Linked DNA regions of Homo sapiens: regions 2, 3 and 4 are each linked to region 1. The links come from fine-mapping of genetic effects on gene expression. A gene starts in region 1. Each other region holds a variant in brackets. All regions are shown on one strand. Distances are from middle to middle. Region 1 holds the start of RFTN1 (raftlin, lipid raft linker 1). Region 2 overlaps RFTN1 (raftlin, lipid raft linker 1). Region 3 overlaps RFTN1 (raftlin, lipid raft linker 1). Region 4 has its middle 9.3 kb from the start of LINC00690.

Region 1 (5,128 bases):
AAGGTCTGGCAGTTTCTTTTCAGGTTTCCATATATCTCCTTTTTGACCCAGCAATTTACTACTAGGTGTTTACCCATGAGAAATGAGAACACATGTCCCTACAGAGACTTGTACACAAATGTTCACGGCAGCTTTGTTCACAATAACCAAAGAAAGAAAGAAAGAAACTAGAAGAAAGAAACTAAAATAATCCATGTATCCATTAACAGAATATACAAACAAACTGTGGAGTAAGACATACTCCGGAACATAAGTCAGCAATAAAAAAAGACCAAATCATGGATACGACATGGATGAATCTCAAAAATATGGTGAGCTTTACACAATATTGCAGAATTCCATTTACATGAAGTTCAAGAACAAGCCAAACTCACCTATGATGAGATACAGGGCAGTGGTTGCCACTGAGAGGGTGAGGGCAGAGAATGACTGAGAATGAGGATGAAGGCACCTGCTGGGGTGACAGTAATATTCTCTGTCTTGATAAGGACTAGGGTTACACAGGTGCATGCATCTGTCAAAACATTATGCAAATGGTACTTTCCATCTTTGCACATTTCACTATATGTATATAAATTTTATCTTAAGGAAACCATAAGCACATATTGAAGTCAAAATAATAAAATGTGTACTAAAATGTTTAGGAATGACCTGTACCAACATCTGTAATTTACTTTAAAGTGCATAAAACCATCAGCTGGACTTATGGATGGACACAGGGATGGCTGGATGGTTGGGGGAGGTGTGTAGTTAAGCAAAGATGGCAAAATGTGAATTAGACTCTAGGTGTGTATATTTAGGGGGTCACTGTTCTTGCAACTTTTCTATATCTTAAAAAATGGGATGGGGATAGAGTCACAGTGTCCTCTCCTTAGTCCACCAAGTTAGAAATTTGGCAAAGCACCATGCCCCACCAAGCCATGGGACCACATAGTTTCAATTCTGCTGAAAAGAGAAGACTGGAAGAACATAAGTAGCTTTACAGGAACTCACATCACTCATGCCAAAGATTTTCTGCTTGTTTCCCTACAGACAAAGCAATTATTTGAATGTAAGCCAAAAATTCCTGCTCAAGAGGGAGAAAAAGAACTCACTGACTTGTATTCCCAATTTATTATCTTTCAATTCCTGTACCAAATCTACTAGCTAACTGCACAACACTCCACTTCCATTTGCCCCATGTCCATACAGCCAAAAAGCAAACAAAGAAAAACCAACCCAGTGACTTGATATACAAATGCAGCCAGAGGATGACGTGCCAGCTCTGGGGCTTTGAATCACTCAGGCGGGCCAGAAACCCCACTGAAGGCAAAAGAGGATGCAGAGCTCAGTCTGAGGTTAGAGTGATTTCACTGAGGTTAGCACACACGCACCAAAGAGTCCCAAACAGCTTGCTTCGTAACCCCTCTCTGGGGTTTGGTGACATCTGGGGTCACTTGAACTTCGTTGGGATTCAGCTGTTCAGAGATACAAATTAGGAATCCCGGCAGCAGAGAGGCCCTACCCACAGGCCCAGAGGTCGCTCACATTACACCCGGCTTCCTTCCTGGCAAGGCCTTAACTTATCCTGAGATGACACACGATGGCAGGGGTTGGAAGATGCCTAGTCTAGTTGAGCGCCCAGCTCCTGAAACAGCTGTACCGACTACAAGGGTTCCAGCACATGAGTTGCTGGAAACTGGGGTGACCACTGACAGAGATTGAGCCAGACTTTTTTTTTAAAAAAGTACTTCTTGTTTGTTTGTTTTAAGCCCCCGAAGAAACTCACTGACACCACCCAGCGTCCCTAGGGATCACCCATAACCACACAGGGCAGCTGAGGGCAAGCACAGAGTCACAGACAGACAGCAGGGAGCGTGCCTGGTTCTACAACCTTGGCCTCCACGCGGTTCTTGCTGCCAAAGGCAGCGACACCGGAGGTGAAGGGCACCAGCCCTGGCCTAGGACTGGGGTGCGCGTGCCTGACAACGGGGCTTCCCGAAATACACAACCACCTCCTCCTCGCCCAGACCCATATCCATCCTGGCGTCCCTTGAGTCTAGAGAAGTGGGTTAAGACAAGGGAAGAAAATCCCTTACAGAAGAGGAGATCCCCGTTTTCAGTGCTGGGGACTCTCGGCACCCGCGTCCCTGTGCTTCTGGTGGTTCCGGCGCTTCCTCGGAGCGCGCGGCATGTCTGCTCCTACACGTCCAGCACCTCTGTCCCCAGAGCAAACCCACCTCCCAGGGCACACGCAGAGGGGCAGTCAGGCACCGCCTCCACCCTGCCCCACCCAGGCCGCGCGCACCCCGGAAACCTGGACTCCGCGACCAGCTCCCTCCTGTTCTTTTCCGAGGACCCCAGCGGCAGTGTGTCCTGGACCCACCTGTAGCCTCCAAGCTCCCCCACCTCTGCGTCCTTCCTAGGCGCTTCTGAGCCTGCAGAGCCTACGACCCCCAACAGGCTGCTCCGAAGTGCCTCTCCCTACATCGCTCCAGGAATGACTCCCCTACACCCGTTCCCCGCAAAAAAAAGTTGGCCCAAGATCCAGGCGTCCCAAGGATCAGCCCAGGTCCCCATCCGACGCGGGCCAGGGGGTGCTGCTCTGGCAGCTCCGGAGCCCCGGCAAAGAGCAACCTGCAGGGAGGCGCCACGCGCGGTTCCCACTACCCGCCAGAGACCCGGTCCATGGGGCCAAACGGAGGGGCCTGTGCCGGTCGACACCCCAAGCCCTGTCGCGCCCCCCCCGCCGCCTACCGTATGGGACCGGCGGAGGAGAAGGCGCGGTCGCGGGCTCCCTGAGGCAGCGTGTTCCGTCCCGGGAGGAAAGTTTGTGCCATACAGAGGAGGCGGCGCGGGGAGGACTTGGGCGCCGGTGGGTGGAGGCGTGGGCGGTGGCGCCGCGTGGTCGTGTGTCTGTCCCTCCGGCGATCGGTGCGTCTGTCCCTCGCCGGAGCCCGCGGCCGCCGCGCTCTCGCTCGCTGCGCCCAGCGCCCGGCGCGCTCCGGCTCCAGCCCCGACGCGCCCCCGCCGCCGCCGCCGCGCGTCCGCCGGCTACACTTCCTCTTCCTCTGAACTCATGTGCAAAATATGCTACGCTGCATCTTCAGGGAAAGCCTCGCGGCCCCTGACAGCAGCCGCTGGAGCGGTGGGCCCGCCCAGCTCTCCCCGCGCCCCCTCGGAGTTCCGCCCGGTCACCTCCACGCGGCCGAGCTGCAAGCGACCCTGGCAGCCTCAGAACCCAGGGGTCAGGGGCTCATCGATCCTCCCTCCCAGCCCCTCCTAATCAAGGTTGTGTGCTGTCAGGAAGAGCGCCTGGGAGACAAGGATCCTTCAAGATTTGAGCCAGGATGCTGAAAGGGCGACTGCCATCAAGGTGCTGATGGCTGGGGGTGGGGTTGGGGCCGACTTGAGAGAGGACCATTTCTCGACCCCATTCCACAGGTGGGAGCATCCCTAAACATCTCAGGTGCTGCTGAAATTCTCTCTTGCGAGTTAGTGCTTCAGGGAAGGGTAATGCCACTGTCTCCGTTGCCATCCCTTGGTCTACCTACTTAAGATGTCCAGAGGTTTGAGAAGATCTGGAGAATCACCTTGCGTGGCAACTTGAGGCACCCAGGGAGAAAATTATATAAAGAGTGAAGCACTAGTAAACCAGGCTGCATTAGTAAAGTGAAGATGTGAGGCAAGGAGCCATTAGAAAATATTTTCTTCGTAAAACTAAACCAAGCAGAATTACAGTGTAGGGGTTAAGAGGGGGAACTTTAAAGTCAAATAATCAGGGTTGGATTCCTGGCTTTAGTACTTACTGGCTGTGTGACTTTGGGTAAGTGACTTAACTGCTCTGCGCCTATTTGTCACATGGCACTTCTTCGTGGGTTATTATATGTAAAGTGTTTAGCAACCACTCTATAACTTAGCTATTATCATTATTTTAAGGGGGCTAGAACAAGAAGGGTGAGATAATTTAATTAATTATCTCCATTTTCTAATTGGGCAAAGAAGACCCTGTGTGGGCAAAGTTAAGCACTGGAGCACACAGGGTGGAGGGCTGGTTTAGGGGCCCAGCAGTGTTTCGATGAGGTCCTTCTGGCACTAATAACACTCCTCCAGCAAGTAAGGAAGCACTATTTTGTTTTCAGGGACTCTTCCTGTTACCACAGCTTCTCAGAGATTTTCTTCCTTATTTTCTCTTTCCATAGCCTTTCTAGTTCTGTTTTGCTCCCCCTCCCTCACCACTGTTTTGTTTTTATTTGTTTTTCTCCTTTCCCTTTCCACCCCACCTTTTCCTGGTGTCACACTCACCACCACTATCCCCAGTGTCCCCCATTTCCCCCCTACACTTGAGCTTGCCACATGAAAGAAAATAAGACCAGGTGACCACGTAAGTCCAGGTTCAGACAGTAGTGCGCAGGGACATTTGCTCAGGGGCATCACCAGAGGTTGTGAACACCCATTTATGAAGCCAAAGGGAGGGGTCTTCATGCTATCTATCTGCCCGAGGCCTTGAATTGCTGCAAGTCAGGGTCCATCCAAAATCTTTCTGATCCTTTGCTGGTCACTAGGCCACAGAAAGAAAATAAAATTGATAGGTGTTAACCGGTAGGCATTTAAAAGAAGATAAAGGAAAAAGGAGGGTGGGGGTGGGGGAATGCAGCATAACCTAGTTGCAGTGTGCTTGATTTCTTTTAAGCAAATCATTTTCACTCTATAAAACTTTTGCACACCGTTGTGTTTTTTGTGCTTTTTTTTTTTAAGACACCAGTGCTTGAGGTTAATATGCTATTCTGATTGCTTCCATTTTCTTCCACTCAATATTTTCCCGAGTGCTAATAATCATGGGCAAATGTCTTAAATGACTTTTTTCCCTGCTTGGATCTGCATTTTTGAGGGTTTTCTAGAACTCCTGATCTTCTTGATATTCTGATGCTTCCTACTGGCACATAGTAGGTGTTCAGTAAATATGTGTGGAATGAGTGGATGAGCCAATAGCATGCAGATCTTTCAAGGCTCTTCTTAACCTGCATTCAGCAATTATCCAGGGTGTTCCAATTCTCTTTCACCTGGAATATTTAATGAGGAGCCAAATGTTGGATTCACTTGTGTTCTGTAGAGAGCTGCCTGGATTTTCCACTTGACTGCTATGGAC
Region 2 (5,123 bases), 140 kb before region 1:
ACTCCTGAATCATTAATTCCTCAGGGCCCATTCCCGAGAATGGCTGCAGGTAGAGAGGCTAAGGAAGCGGTGGGCTCGGCCAGAGCTGTCCACAGGTGACCCCAACATGGGCCATAGCACCACTCGCTACAGCCTGCTACAGTCAAGCACAAATGCAAATGAATTAAGAAGAAGAAGAAAAAAATCACAGCCTCTGTGTGGGAGAAGTAGGTGGGGAATTTGGAAGTGGCCAAAGTCCAAAACTACATGGTAACACTTGATCACACAGAAGGAACTCCCACTCAATGGCAAGACAGAAACATAACTTTCCCAAATGCGTAATGAACCAGGAAAAGGGGAAGGCCAAAGGAGAAGTGAGAATGCTGGGGGTGTAGCGGAGGAAGACAGAGACCCTCAGAAAAGGTAGACGGTGCTGACAGCTTTCCCGGCTTGATCCTCCCCAGGGGGCCAGACTGAAGCCAGAGACAGAAATAAATTTCTCAGGAAAAGGAAACAGTGTTGGAACGAAGAGCCTCCAAAGCATCAGCAGCAATGAAATATTGGGAGAAACCTGATTGCACATGCATAACCCTTGTACGCTCCTCTGCCCCATCATCTCCTTGTCTCCAGTCCTTTCTCTACCCACATGGAAACCAGCCAAGAGAACTGTCCAAAAGTGATGTCCTTTGATGTTTTAATATTCTGATTCTCCAACACACATCCTCACGTGAGCAAGCACCAAAGATTCCAAAAAGAAGCCCCACGTTTGTTTAAATTTTCTCAGCTGCTCTGTGACTCTGCCATGACCCCAGCTGGAAGATTTTTCCAGACATGGGATGGTAAGTCCCAAAGGGATAGGGAAGGCATTGTTTTTGAGAATGTTCTGGGAGTGGCTGAAGGACTGTACTGGCAGAGCACCCAAGGAGCATTTGGACTGTCTTCTCATCTCTCCCTTTCCCCCACCTTGCCTCATTTAGATCCCTCCTGTTACACGTGTTCACCGTATTGACCTAAGCCAACCAGAGGAGAAAGTGAGGGCAGGTTAAGGGGGCATGGGGCCCAAGGGTGGGGGTGGCTGAGTCCTGCCAGCCTTGGAGCCTGGTCCATTCAGGCCTTGCCAGGCTACTAGGGAGTGGGGAGGAAAGAGGCAGCTGTCCAGCCCTGAGGTCTGTACCTGGGCGTGGGGACTCTGGCACAGGATGGAAGGCTGCAGTTTGCCTGCAGGTGGGGCCCCAGAGAGCCCAGGTCTTGAGGGTAAGCAGGGGACTGGCTGGGCCCTGCTGTCCCAGGAGACCTCTGGTCTGGAGAGAAGAAAGAGTTTAGAGCCTGGGTGAAAATCTGGGGCTCCAAGGGCTAGATGTGGGAGGAGGAGGCAGCTGGTCATTAGCTGCATTGGAAGGAACAAGTGGGCATCACACTTGGCTGGGCAGTCCAAGCTGGGTGGGGACTGCAGGCTGCTGAGGTCATGGGCAGAAGGAACTAAGCAGAAAGGTTTGCATTGGGAAGGGAGGCAGTGGGCACCATGGTGGCGAGGCAGGGCAGGAGGGTAGAAGGGCCCCAGGCTGCTCCATCCAGATGCCTAAATCTGGGCAAGGCTGCTCAAGCTTCGCTAAGGCTTGGGTACTAATAGCAGGTACTAATAGTGAGGCCCGCTTGCCAGGGCAGCAGGAAAGGCAAAGTGCAGGGACCGCTGCTGCGTGCACAACAATCCACAGGACTCCACCTGCAAGCATGACAGCAGCCACAGGCATGTGTCCCATATTTACAAGGGCCTTTCACCTTCACCATCTCATGTGACTCTCCCAAACTTGATGAGAGGGGGTGGCCCTGGTTCTGTGCCCAGAAGTGCTAAGTGGATCCCCCAGAAATCACAAGCCAGTAAGTGGCACAGCCAAGAGTCTTTCAAACCCCAAACCCTGGGCTCTTTCCCAAATCTAACAAGAGGCTAACTTCATCAGGACACAGAAGGCAGGGGCTGATGACCGTGGGTGGGAGCTCAATAGCTGTTTGTTAATGGACTGAGTAAAAGGCCAGAAAGATGGCGGCAGGTGGCAGATCTGGGAGGGGGCCGCATCATGGGGTCCAACTATCCCAAGGGAGTTGGGAGGGAAGGAGCCCTCACATCAGGAAAGCCCAACCCCCAGGTTTTGGCCATTCACAATGAGCTGGCAGCCAGGGAGGGCTACTGAATAAAATCCTCTCAGCCAGAAACATGATTGGCATCACACGCTTGGGTTTCTGGCTGACATTTCTAAGCATTTTAAGTGAGGAGGTGCAGGGTAGGAAGGGCAGTGCTTGGAAGACTT[G/A]TTATTTTGGTGACGGTGAGAATGATTAGAATTTTCGTGAACCTGTCTAGCCTCCTGGTTTCTCTGATGGAAGCTGTGGCAACGGAGACACTGAGGCTGTCCCTGCACAGGCTCAGGTGATCACGGCACAGCACGGACCTCCAACCAAAAGGAAATTCCCCCAGACCAGGAAATAAGTCAGCGAGCAGGAAGAGGAACCCACGGCGGGCCTCCCCAAGAACCTGCAGGGGCAAGGAGGCGTGACGGCTGCACCGAGCCCGCAGAGATGGGGAGGGACGACCTGCCCCTGCTTCCGCATGGAGAATCCACTGGAAAGTCCTGTCTGAGCAGGCATTGCCTAGATTCCTCTCCCCAAGGCCTCCTATAAAGGAAATAAATTAACTGAGGAGAAGGAGGGAAGAGGAGGGAGACTCCCTCTGGATTTTTTTTAATTGTCTTGCTGTGATTGCCTATTTAAGCCCACCTGGCAGAAGAGGAGTAAAAAACACTTCACCCTCCCTTAGGGGGCTCTGAGAGAAGGCAAGCTGGGAGCTGAGCAGGCAGTGGGGAGGGGTGCCTGGGGGGGCCCGTGTGTGCCTGTGGGGGAGTGACAGTGAGTGGGCTTCCTAGGAGAAAGATTAGGAGAGAGGCTGGGGGTCAGGTGAGGGTCACAACCAATAAGGACAGGGTCCCTGGACGTTCAGCCTTCAGGGAGGCCAAATACTCAAGCTGTGATAAAGAAATTTAACTATATGGGGGTATAAAAGGTGACACTCCCTATTTGTAAAATGGATCTAGTAATAGCATCTTCTGCCATAAAGCTGTTGTGAGGAGTTACTGAGATGACACAAGAAGGACACAGAATAGGGCACTTGGAGGGTGACTGCCATCGTGACCACTGAAAGGCTTATATGTGAAATGATCCCTGTATGAAAAACCCAAAAGCTCATCTATTCCATCAAAGGAGGGAAAAGGGATAATAGTGAGCTGCCTAAATTTCAGAGATTCGCAGCCTGAGCAGAGAGATAAAGGGACTGCTTTATGTGTAGAGACAGGCAGTGTTTACCTGCCTAGGGAGACTGGGCTCGAAGGAGGCTTTAATCCCTCCTCCTGGCCTACCCGTGCAGAGCTGAAATTCTCATCCACTGGTGGGCTGACCACCTCCAGAAACACACACATTCACCCATTCCTCCCCAGCAGGGTCTGTTTCTCCAGGAGAGAACAGGGACTTGGGTGATGGGATAGGGGCCAAGATGCTTTGGGTGTCAATTTTTCTGTGTTCAGCCATCAGGGGAGATTCTGGGTGAGGAAGGTGAGTGGCCACGGGGTAGCAAGAAGGTCCTGGGCACCTGCGGAAGTTCCTTGGACAAGTTTCCCCAGTGAATAATCCTCTCACAGGAGGCAGGAAGTCTGGAAGGAGTATCGGAGGAAGGTGGGCTCTGGAACACAGGAAGCATCTGAAAGCTACTGAGGAAACCTCAATAGTAACTGCCTCCTTTCTCAAAGCCAGGATTCCATGAGAGGTGGAGGTCGAGTGTCAGGACTACTGAGCCTGTACCCCAATAATAGCAGCTCATACTCATGAGTCAAACAGTGCCGAGTGCTTTAAATGTACAACTTTAACCTTTCCATGAGAAACTATCGTTCTATCCCCATTTCAAAGGGTGAGAAACTGAGGCACGGAAGGCAGGCCGGAATGTATACTCTAGATTCTTGAGCACCATGCTCCTCACCTCTCCATCACTCCTGCCCTTTCTCCTGGGGGCCTCTGCCTGGCCTGACTCTCGCCCTCCCACAGTCCTGGACCGTACAGAAGGACTCCAGTGAGGTCCATCTTCCTGCCCAGGATTCAGAGCACACACATCCAGCCCAGCCTCCATGAGAAGATGGAGGTTTCTGGACTAAGACCTGGGCGTTCATGAGGACGACACACTGGGCTTAAATGCATGCTCAGCTACTTCATGAGGGCAGCAGGCATGTGCCTCAAACAGCGAAAAATCACACAGATGAAGGGCTCTACTTCAGTGCATACTAAGAAGGCTCAATGCCTTGATTAAACAATAGTCTTACTACATCACAAAACTGACGCAGCTCCAATATCTCCCTCTAAATCAACTTTGCAAATAAGCCCCTGGAATTAACCATCCCATAATTTTCCTCTCAAGAAGTTCTGATGTAACAAAAGAAACTGTTTCTCCTTGTTTTCCCTTCTGGAAGCACCACCTGTTCATTATCACTTGTAAGAGGCTAAATTCAAGAATTCGTAAATAAATGGTAATAACAATATTAACCAGGGAGATCATCCAGAAAGGCCTAAACAGAAAGCCCTCCTAAGCCCTGGGGGTCTTCTGTTAGTTTTCATACTTGTTCTTACTTACATGGCTTATGTAAGTACCTTGCTCTCAGGAAATGACCAGATGCTAGATTTCCTGGAGAAAGGGGGAAATATGGATGGTTGATTTCCTGAAGAAAGTAGAGAAAAAGGAAATACAGAGAAACGGAGGGAAACTTTGCTCCCTGTAAATCTTATTAAGGGCCTCGGCAAATCTTGTTAGTCTATCACACAGGAAAGACCAAGCAGAGAGGCGTGAAGGGATGGTGGGTAAGTCCACCTGGGTTCATATGCCCGAACTGCCTATTTCCAGACTGGGCAACAAATTTCCTCTCTAAACCCCAGTTTGCTCAGCTGTAAAATGTCTTGCTTTAGGCAAGTATTTTAACAGGTGGTGTGTAGGTTTTCATCGGTGCCTGGCAGGCTGACACTTCCTGTGTGAAAACTGGATAATTCAAGGGCAATTTCGAGAGCACAGGAGATAAAAGAGCTCACAGTCTAGAATCCACTTCAAACGTGACATTTTG
Region 3 (5,166 bases), 150 kb before region 1:
CTGGCAGGCACAAGGGTGTGGCAAGCACTGGCTGTCTAGAGGGTCCCAGTGCCCCACACTCCTCACAAAGGGTTGTATCCACCTCTGTCTTCCCTCGGCCTGGAGAGCCCTCTTTGGCAGAGGCCCTCCCAGCAATGCCAATCCTGTGTTCTTCCAAAGCATTCAGAAAGCAGTTCTCTATGTCCATGGCTGGGCACGGTGGCTCACGCTGTAATCCCAGCACTTCAACAGGCCAAGGCAGGCAGATCACTTGAGGTCAGGAGTTTGAGACCAGCCTGGCCAACGTGGTGAAACCCTGTCTTTACTAAAAATACAAAAATTAGCTGGGTGTGGTGGCGGGTGCCTGTAGTCCCAGCTACTCTGGAGGCTGAGGCAGGAGAATCGCTTGAACCCAGGAGGCAGAGGTTGCAGTGAGCCAAGATCGCGCCACTGCACTCCAGCCTGGGCGACAGAGCAAGATGCCATCTCAAAAAAAAAAAAAACAAAAAAACAAACAAACAAACAAACAAAAAAAACCAAGAATTCAGTTCTCTATGTCCAAATAGCTTCTCCCTTTATATCCCAGACACTGTGTGTACAAGAGACTAGGCTAAAAAGTCCATGCTTCCGCAGTTAGAGAAATGCCCTTCAGCTACCCACTAGTGAATCTTGGAAGTAAATTAGCTCCTCCAAAGTCCCAGCAGAACGTGGTTTGAGGAATTCCCCTTCCCACAGCAATTTGGTGGCCTCATGAGTCAACATTTCTCAAAGACATTCTTCAGTATTTAATGTGTAATCTTGGACCAGGGACCTAACCTCTCTGTGCCTCAGTTTCCTCATCTATATAATGGGCAATAACAGTATTTACTTAAAAGGCTTATTGTGCAGATTAAGTGAGCTCATGTGCATAACTCTAAGGATAGCTGCAGAGGGAGCCACAGGGTCTGGCTCCAATATTGATGCTGCTCTGAGTATTAACGGAGGCCACAAACTATGTGGCCTCATTTATATCACTTAGAGTTGTCAGTTATATGCAAATTAATGGAAGACAACTCTCCTTCCACCAAATGGCCAGGCACATGCAATGTGCTTTTCTTGCAGAAAGGGAAGAGCGGGGCCCACCCCTACCTGGGGGTGGGAAAAGAGGGGAATGAAAAGACTAAGGGGATCCTTCTAGGACCTACCAGGTCAACTCCCTCTCAGAAGAAAGCCACAGCTGAGCCACAGCCCCACGGTCAGATCAAGCAGGCGGATAAAACAAGTGCTGTCTAAACAAAAGAAGCGGGGCTGCCAACCCCACACTTACTTCCAGGACTGTCCATTGTTCAACCACAATAGCATCATAGCCCTGTATGGTTTTGCTATCTTCTGTGGAAACAGCTTCAAAGATGAATACTCCATCTGTCAAGCCATGTAAGGAATCTGTGGAAAAAGAAAAAGGCGGGGGTGGGGGGGGTCTGTAAACCGTCTGTGGCAGAAGTCTTCTAAGCAGCAAACATTTCCACTGCATTCATTAATAATCCCAATCAGAACATCTTTTCAGCATGTTAATTAAAGAAGGCACACACAAGCCATAGAGTCTATCTAGCCCTATCAGAATGAATGAGGCTAATTTACCTCACAGTTTTGAATAATATCCTTGATTTTATGAGCCCAAATTTCATTGTTAGCAATCACCATTTGATTTCACACGTTTACCTTCCTTTTCATGCTCCAGCGTCAGGATGCACTGGGGAGAACTTATCCAGGGTAAAACACAGTCATTTAGAGACAGTTTTTAGAAGCAAACTATATTTAGGTGAGGGTTTTTTTTTTCTTTTTTCTTTTTTTTTAAAGGGAAGAGATATAACACACCAGATCTGAGCTTGTCAGATGCGTTGATTTTTGGAAGTTCACATGATGTGGGCTGCAGTCCAGACAACATCTTAGGCAGCTCTTGTCAAGAGGTGGAATGTGGGGGAGAGGGAATTTTCCCAAATAATTTACCACTGGAAATGTTTCCCTGGGTGCTGCTCTAGTCAATGTACCAGGTTCTGAGCTCTGCACAATTCGACAAGTATACATGAAATGTATAGCATGATCAAGAACTATCTTAGGCAATGAGGGTAAAAAGAAATATAGAACAGGCCAGGCGCAGTGGCTCACACCTGTAATCCCAGCACTTTGGGAGCCAAGGCAGGAGGATTCACTGAGCTCAGGAGTTCGAGACCAGCCTGGGCAACACAATGAAACTCTATCTATACTAAAATACAAAAAATTAGCTGGGCGTGGCAGGGTATGGCTGTAATCCCAGCTACTTGGGAGGCTGAGGCAGGAGAATCGCTTGAACCGGGGAGGTGGAGGTTGCAGTGAGCCGAGATAGCACCACTGTACTTCAGCCTGGGTGACAGAGCGAGATTCTGTCTCCAAAAAAAAAAAAAAAAAAAAGAAATACTGAACAGAGTCCTTGACCCTATAGAATACACTAAGGGAAGCACCTTTTGCCCCTTTGTTTGGGGCATGGCTCCTAAATGTCCTAGGTTCATTTTGATAAGGGATTTGGGGGAAGAAGACTGACTTAGAAGCAAGTGGTTTGAAGCTAGGCTCTATCATGAAAGGTGATGTGACTCTTTCAAGGGCTAGGTCTCTCATCTATGGGATTATGGACAATCTCTCTTGGTTCCCAGACTTGATGCTATAAACACTGCTCAATCATAATATTATGGACTGAATTGTTTCCTCCCAAAATTCGTATGTTGAAGCCCTAACCCACAATGTGACTATATTTGGAGACAGAGCCTTTAGGAAGGTAATTAAGGTTAAATGAGGTCCTAGTCCTCCTTTAACTAGGGTAGGATGGGGCCTTAGTCTAATAGGACTGGTGTCCTTATTAGAAGAGGAAGAGAAACCAGAGCCCTCTCTCTCCCTTTCCTGGCGTGTGTAAAGAGGAAAAGCCACGTGAGGACACAGCAGGAAGGTGGCTGTCTGCAAGCCAGGAAGAGAGCCCTAGCCAGAAACTGAAGTTGTGGGAACC[T/C]TGACCATGGACTTCTATCCTCCAGAACTGAGAGAAAATAAGTGTCTGTTGTTTAAGCCACGCAGTGTGTGGTATTTTGTTATGACAGTCCTAGTAAACATACAAACAAAGCGCATTTCAATGATACGCTCTTTTAAAAGGACAATTTTTAATAGGGCAAATCCATAATAATGTGACCTTTTTTTTTTCATGGGGAGGGAAGGGAGACAAATTCAGAAAGTCCCCTGAATCATGCTGGAGTTCCTGGAACTGCCAGTATTTTCTAGAAGTCACAAAGAAAAAGACTGACAAATGTGAATATATAACAATCTTTAGCTTTGGCTCCCAAGAGACCCCATAAACAAAAGGTCATCAGCATGAGAAAATTATTTGCAACAACAATAACAAAAATAAAGGCTAAGCTTAATATTTTTATATATAAAAAGCTTTTATAGTTAAAAATACTGAAACACCATTAGAAACAAAGGACATAAAGCAATTAATTAATTCTCTTTATCTTTCCATGGCCAGTAAACATTGAAAAAAATTGCAGTTTCTTTTTTTTTTTGTTTGAGGTAGGGTCTCACTCTGTCTCTTAGACTGGAGTGCCATGGCACAATCACGGCTCACTGCAGCCTCAACCTCCTGGGCTCAAGTGATCCTCCCACCACAGCCTCCCGAGTAGCTGGGACCACAGGCACATGCCACCACCCCAGCTAATTTTTTATTATTTGTAGAGATGCGGTCTCACTATGTTTCTCAGGCTAGTTTCGGACTGCTGGACTCCCAAAGTGCTGGAATTACAGGCAAGAGCCACCGTTCCAGGCCTCAACTTCTTTTTTATTTAGCAAGGTGACAAATTTTGAAAAGAAAATTTTCACTGCTGGTAAAGGTATGGTGATATGCAAAAGTTTACAGTGCTTAAGGGAATTTTAACTGTACAATCTTTATAGAAAGCAATTTAACAATGTTGCAGGAGCTTGCCACAAAAAGTCCACCCTCTTTCACCCAGAAATCTTACCTTTCTTGTCTATCATGAGGTAATAACCTCCAATGCCATCAAATACCCATCTACAAGCATTACTTATAAAATTACTTAAAAACTTAATCTAAATGTTCAACAATCCAAATATTTAACCATAGAAAAATAGTTAAATTTGGAGATTTCTATAAAATACTAGCCTGTCCCTAAAAATATTATGGGAATTTAATGATTTGGAAAAATGCTTTAGATACAATATTATGGAGAAAAAACTAGGATATAAAACTGCCACATGAGCTCAATATGGATTTTTATGTTAAAATGGTTTAGACAAACTTTAAGGAAATACACAAAATGCTAGCAGCAGTTATAAGTGGTAGAATTACATATAATTTGAGTTTTCTTTTATATCCTTTTCTGTGAGGTTATTAACAAGTTAATACAGGTATAACACAAGTAAATGGACAACACAAATGACAAAGAATTTCCTTTTTCTCTCCTCTACAAGGCTCTTGAAGGCCTAACTAGAATCAAAGAGTTTTTTAAAACTATGGGGAGATGATTTTAGTGTAATCTAAATAGAAAAACTTCCCTTAGAGGAGTCTAAAAATGGCATATAGGGCCTCAGAAGGGTGAGTGACATGTTACTGGAGTTCAAGTGCACTGAATAACCTTCCAGCCATTCATTATGACACCTACTGGGAATCTATTATGTGCCAAGTAGTCCTGTAGTCACTAGAGATCTCACAAGCAGCAAGATAAAGTCCCTGCCTACATGAAGCTTACCTTGCAGTGGAGGAGGAAGACAATAACATCATGTCAGAGGTGATACATGCTAGAAAAATACTAAGTGGGCCAAGGGGAGAGTGTGAAGGTGGACACAGTGGTGGTGGCTATTTTTGAAAGAGGCATCAGGGTAGGGCTCCCCACTTCGAGTGAACTAAGCAAGCAAGGAACATGGATCTGCAGGGTTTGAGAGTTCCAGGAGGAAGGGACAGCCAGCCTGACATGCAGAGTGAACGAAGGACAGCCAAGGACCAGGTGAGCAGCAGAATCAGGAGAGAAGGTGGTTAAGACTAAATTGACTGGTGGGGAGGCCAGCCACTTAGGGCTCTGTTCATCTGACTTGCTTGGCCAATGGGATATTAGCAGGTGTAATGCAAGCAGAGACATAAAAAGCACGTGTGTGGTTGAACTTGGCCTCTTGTGTCTT
Region 4 (5,166 bases), 32 kb after region 1:
GCAGAGATTCCCAAGTTTTTTCAGTTCACAGCTCCCCTAGTATCTCAGTAATTTTTTTCATAGCAACTACAGGTCAAAAGAAATACCCAGAAAATTTGCTTATGAATTAGTCAGGTCCAAATAATTTAATAATTATTTATGTCCTGAAAACATAGTTGCCACTTCGGGAAAAAATAACACAGACAGACTGAAATAAAAATACATTTACTTTACTTTTAAATGATCATAATTTCTTAATAATGGGAGGTGTGTGCCTGTTGGGCACTGAACAATTACTCAAACCTTGGACTCAAATTGGATACTGCCATTGTCATTTTCTATTTCACATTGACTTTTCACAATGTGTTATTTTTTTTTTTATCATAGCAACCATCTGAAACTCAGATACTAGGCAAAACCATCAAAACTAGTGGTTTTGCACAGTATCTGACAGGTGTTAACGAGTTTCCTTCAAAAATCTAAATTATCTTGCAGCATTCCTATGTGTTCACTGAGGCTCCTCAGAGAGCCTCAGCATGTAGCTTGAGAAGCATGGTGGTACAAGTCGCCATGCTATGTCTAGATATGGATCTGCTGGAGGAGTAATGCCTTCTCACCTCCCTGGCAGCCACTTCCTCTGTCCTTCCCAGGTTCCTGTGTCATGTCAGGAGGACCGAGGGCTGATGATTTGACCAGCAATTTCCCGGCTATCGTTCCTCAGCCAGGAGGAACCAAGCTTCCCCATCCAGTTTGCCTTACTCCAGTGAGAAGCCTGAAGCAAAACCCAACCCATTTAAAAAGTAAAAGCGATAATTTGTAGGCTCCTGCATACATTCTGAAATTACCTACATTCCTCTCATCCTGTGCTCATGGGCATATAACATAGACAAGACTGAAATCTTGTCTGAATTGTGAGGAAAGATCAAGTTTCCCCAGCTCCCAAGCCTGTTCCATCTGAATACCGGAATCTATGTGTAAGTCTTAAATAGCAGAGTGTGGAGGAGAATCCATTCAAATTAGAGTCAAATGTTATGGAGACACCCCAGCCTCCTCCTGGGGAAGCAGATCTGAACCATCACGCATCTCAAGAACTGCTTGGTGGCGAGGTAGTGTCGAGGCAATTCAGTGTGGTGAGTGCCACACGCAGCCTCCACACAAATGGGTGAGAAGCCTAATTGTCTTTGACTAGGACTGAATTTGGTTCCGCTTCAAACCCTTATTCTACTGGATGGTAGAAATGAAATCTCAGGCCATTTAGGCTTTCCCATGATGTTACACAGAACAATATGAAATTGCTGCTATTTGATCTTTTCTAAACTATAAAAACAGCAACTACATATGGCCCAGATGATAATGTATCTCCATCACTCCCAGGGTTTGTGACAGTCATGATCCCAGGGGCCACCTGGTTTCCATCGCCACCCACTGTTGTGCCTCTGAGATGTCCTTGCTGTCCTGTGCTCTCCACCATTGGTCCACGAAGACCTCCTCTGCCCTAGCCCCATCAGCAAGGGCTCCCTGACTGCAGTGAATCCTCTCAGCGATTCCCACATCCCCCTGGGGGGCTGCTGTGAAAGATCTGTGGCAGGAATGAGGCACAGTCCCCTTTCTCAGTGACATTTACCAACAGCCAAATTGTCGTGGTCCCTACGTCTCTCTTCTCTCGCGCTCTCTGGAGTGAGAAGAACCAGCTCTTGCAACTTCATTTACCCTTCCAAGTCAATTGCTTCTGGCATCAACTTAGTACCTGAACTCCTTTAAGGCTCAGGGTTTTAAGCTCCTGCATCTCAAAAGCTTTTGTGTGGGAACAGAAAACATGAGTTTCTCTTCCTATGCCTCAGCATCCCTTCTTTTAGAGAGCGGATACCTCCCAGCATAGTTCCAATGGGAGAAAGCCCTTGGGGTGAAAATAATGAGGAAATCGGGACCCGCACATCACCTTGCTGTGCGGTGGGTGCCTGGCTTATCTTATGCCTGGGTCTTGTCACCCAGGACATAGGTGGAGAGTCCTGACCTCACATTTCCAAGCTGTGCAACCCTGGGCAAGCCTCTGACCTCTCTCCAAACATCAGTTTCCTCAGGCCCTCACAGTAAGGAAACATACTGCCAGCAGGCCCACGGCTCATCCTGTGTGGTTAAATACAGTCAAGCAGAGAGAGAAAAATCTTCCAGATTCAATGAAAATGTAATGATCTCCTGTTGCATTAGGAATAGCAAGACTGGATGGCTTTGTAAAAGCTTAGAGATATTATTTTTGAAGCTATCTGTGTATACTTTATTCCCTTTCATATACCCCTTCTGGCTGACCCAAATGAAAAAAGATACAAAACTCATTTCTGGCCCAGCACTTGCCTGATCAGATGTAATGTGTGGTGATACGCCCATTTTCCCGCTCAGCTGTATTCCTGTTTATTCCTGTGAACACATGGTCTCTGCAATTGGCAATGATTTTTTCTTTGTTGTATTTACCTTCCTTTCGGGGGCCAGCCCAGACTCCTGGGTGGATTCATTTCCCATTGAATTACCAGAAAAGGGCAGAATCTGATTGGAAGAACTACGTGGAAGAAAGCTCAGTTCCCAGGCCCTCACACAAGGGACTCTGTCCTCCCATCTATGTCAGAGCCTGGGGGCTGTGAGGGAATTGAAACGGGACATCCTGTCCCCTCCACCAACATTCTTTCCCCACCAAGCAGTGGCATTTTCTTTTGTGTTCTCACACAATTCAGACTAGGTGGAGTAGCCTGTACGGCATGACTGGAGCGACCCCACTGAGCAGAAGTGTTCCCCTTCTCCTTCACCGACACTGTGGGCTGAGAGAAAGCCCACCTGACAGCCCCCTACTTTGGGGTGTTTCTGCCATGGTCCTTTTAACCAAACACCGCATGTTCTCACTCATAGGTGGGAAATGAACAATGAGAACACA[T/C]GGACACAGGGTGGGGAACATCACACACCAGGGCCTGTGGTGGAGTTGGGGGATGGGGAGGGATAGCATTAGGAGAAATACCTAATGTAAATGATGAGTTAATGGGTGCAGCACACCAACATGGCACATGTTTAATGTAACAAACCTGCACGTTATGCACATGTACCCTAGAACTTAAAGTATAATAAAAAAAAAAATAAAGAAAAAAAGAGGGTGTAGTCAGGGCATGGGTTGAAACACCAAGCAAGTGTAAACCACAGGCTTCACACACTTCGCTTTTGGGGAGGCTGGTCAGCTCCGACCTGCAGCAACTGAGAAAGAACACATAGGGGTCCCTGAGGACAGACAGCTTTGCCAAGGACCAGCCTTAGGGCGTAGGAGAAAAAGAAAGGCCGGAGCAGCCACTTCTCTGTGCCCAGCAGTGCAGCCGCCCGCCTGACAATGCTTCAGCCACGCAGAGACGGGCCTGCCTCCTGTCTGCCCTGTCCTGAGAACGGAGATATCTGTGACCCAGAGGTCCTAGGACCTCCCACTTCCTAAATGTGTGACCCTAGATAAGTCGCTTAACCTCTACCCGAACCTCAATTTCATCATCTGTAAAACAAGAATAATCAACCCACCTACCTCATAGGGTTGTTTTGATGCTTAAATGAGACAAAGCACATGTCTAAGAGTTTTCTGATTCATAAAACAACACATGAATATAAGGATTGTTTTCCTGACTTATCTTAGGATCTTTTGGAAGGGACCTTCAATAAGAGACCTTCAGTAAGTTCTCTATGTTCAACCTCTACTATGCACAATCCTGGACAAAAGGTCATCTACCCTCTGCTTGACTCCTTTCTATTATGGGAAACTTATTACGTTTCTTTGATGAGAAACTCACTACCACAAAGCCTTATGACTTGAACTTGCTCTGGTTAGATCATAGCCACCTCATATAAGCTCCAGAGTAAATGGGAAGGGAGAACTAGACTCTGCCAGCAATAGCAGAAAGATCATCATGTAGATTGGGTTGCTCAGATATTTACAGATATTTGTCAAAAACCTGAAGTCAGTGTCATTCATCTTCCCTTTTGAAGGTTAAGTGTGTTTGTTTTTGTTTCCATGACAAGCCTACATTAAAATTGGATTAGGGGCAATGTTCAGAAAAAATCACAGATGCTCAGGGCAGTGTATTCATTGTGTTTACATGGAGTAAAATGCTTTGTCCCAAGATTATTTTACTTCGTCCATTTAGAAAGGTCTCCTGTGACTTGCATAAATGTGGAAGAAAGCTTCGTCATTTCTTTATAGACAGGATAGTTTGATGACATTTTAAAATATCAGTCATAATAAATTAGGGAGACTCCTAACTTAAATCTGTGCTACGAAGGGCCACTGAGGACAGTGAGGTGTGCCCCCACAGCCAAAAACTTTGTATAGCTTTAATTTCAGTACAGAGGTAAATCGGCTTTTGCTTTTGGATTTAAGATTTGGCAAGCATGTGAAATTAAGTATCACTTAGGGGGATTTTTTTACAGAGGGAAGCTAGGAGATTATGAGTGTTAGGGCTTATAGTTTAAATCTGCAATTAGCATAAATATGCAAAGGTCACCCTAAAGAGATGCATGCCCCTATTATCTGTAGAGGTAGGCGTAAGAAGTGGAGAGAAATGGCAAACAGAGTTTTGCAAACAAATGTGCGGTGGGAATTCAGATTTTCATGTACGTGTTGCATCTGTGGCCTAGAAGAAATCAGACACATGGCCTAGGAGAAATCAAGAGTGAGAAATCACCAGCCCACAGAGGAGATGTCACTGACCTTGAGGCTAACAGAAGTAAATGACAATTGTGGCAACAGCTGTTGGTCACCAACTCAACAGTGATTACCACCTTCTTCTTTGTTAATAGAAAATGATTTCTGTTCAGGAACTGAGCAGCAGATAGTTCTTGGAATCTGGACCCCATTGAAGTTTCAAGGTGTAAACCTTGATCAGTCTGTGTCCAAAATTGTAGTTCTGTTTCCCTTGTTAGTGATGAGTTCAGGATGGGGCATGTGCCACAATTGTAGTCAATGAGAAGTCTGCTGGAGGTACTTCTAGAAGAGTTTTCCTTAATCTCAAAAAAGAAGAAATCACAGAGACTTTCTGTTTCTGTCATTTGGATGTTGCTGGGAGATAATGTGATGCTTGGAGCTGTTGCAGCCATTTTGCAATCATGAGGGAAGAAGCCTGAGGCAAAGGCAACATGCTTAGGGTAGCAGAATAGGAATATCGACAAATC

Evidence for each region. PIP is the estimated chance that this variant, and not a neighbour inherited with it, causes the effect.
Region 2: its variant is fine-mapped to the expression of RFTN1 in cerebellar hemisphere (GTEx, PIP 0.97). The same link has a PIP of 0.9 or more in cerebellum.
Region 3: its variant is fine-mapped to the expression of RFTN1 in cerebellum (GTEx, PIP 0.99).
Region 4: its variant is fine-mapped to the expression of RFTN1 in whole blood (TOPMed, PIP above 0.99).

The regions. Positions count from the first base shown.
Region 1 is chr3:16,510,706-16,515,833 of GRCh38, forward strand. RFTN1 (raftlin, lipid raft linker 1) reads right to left here and starts at 2,994. Exons shown (of 10, transcript NM_015150.2): 1 at 2,737-2,994. RefSeq lists enhancers at 1,434-1,843, 2,394-2,473 and silencers at 2,764-3,123, 3,154-3,223, 4,377-4,552.
Region 2 is chr3:16,372,362-16,377,484 of GRCh38, forward strand. The region is part of intron 5 of RFTN1 (raftlin, lipid raft linker 1); the gene reads right to left. Among named protein-coding and RNA genes, the nearest start is that of OXNAD1, 110 kb to the left of the region's middle. RefSeq lists an enhancer at 1,432-1,481. The variant G/A (reference allele first, on the strand shown) is at 2,286.
Region 3 is chr3:16,356,647-16,361,812 of GRCh38, forward strand. It overlaps RFTN1 (raftlin, lipid raft linker 1), which reads right to left. Exons shown (of 10, transcript NM_015150.2): 7 at 1,286-1,401. Among named protein-coding and RNA genes, the nearest start is that of OXNAD1, 94 kb to the left of the region's middle. The variant T/C (reference allele first, on the strand shown) is at 2,993.
Region 4 is chr3:16,543,068-16,548,233 of GRCh38, forward strand. No RefSeq gene overlaps it. Among named protein-coding and RNA genes, the nearest start is that of LINC00690, 9.3 kb to the left of the region's middle. The variant T/C (reference allele first, on the strand shown) is at 2,903.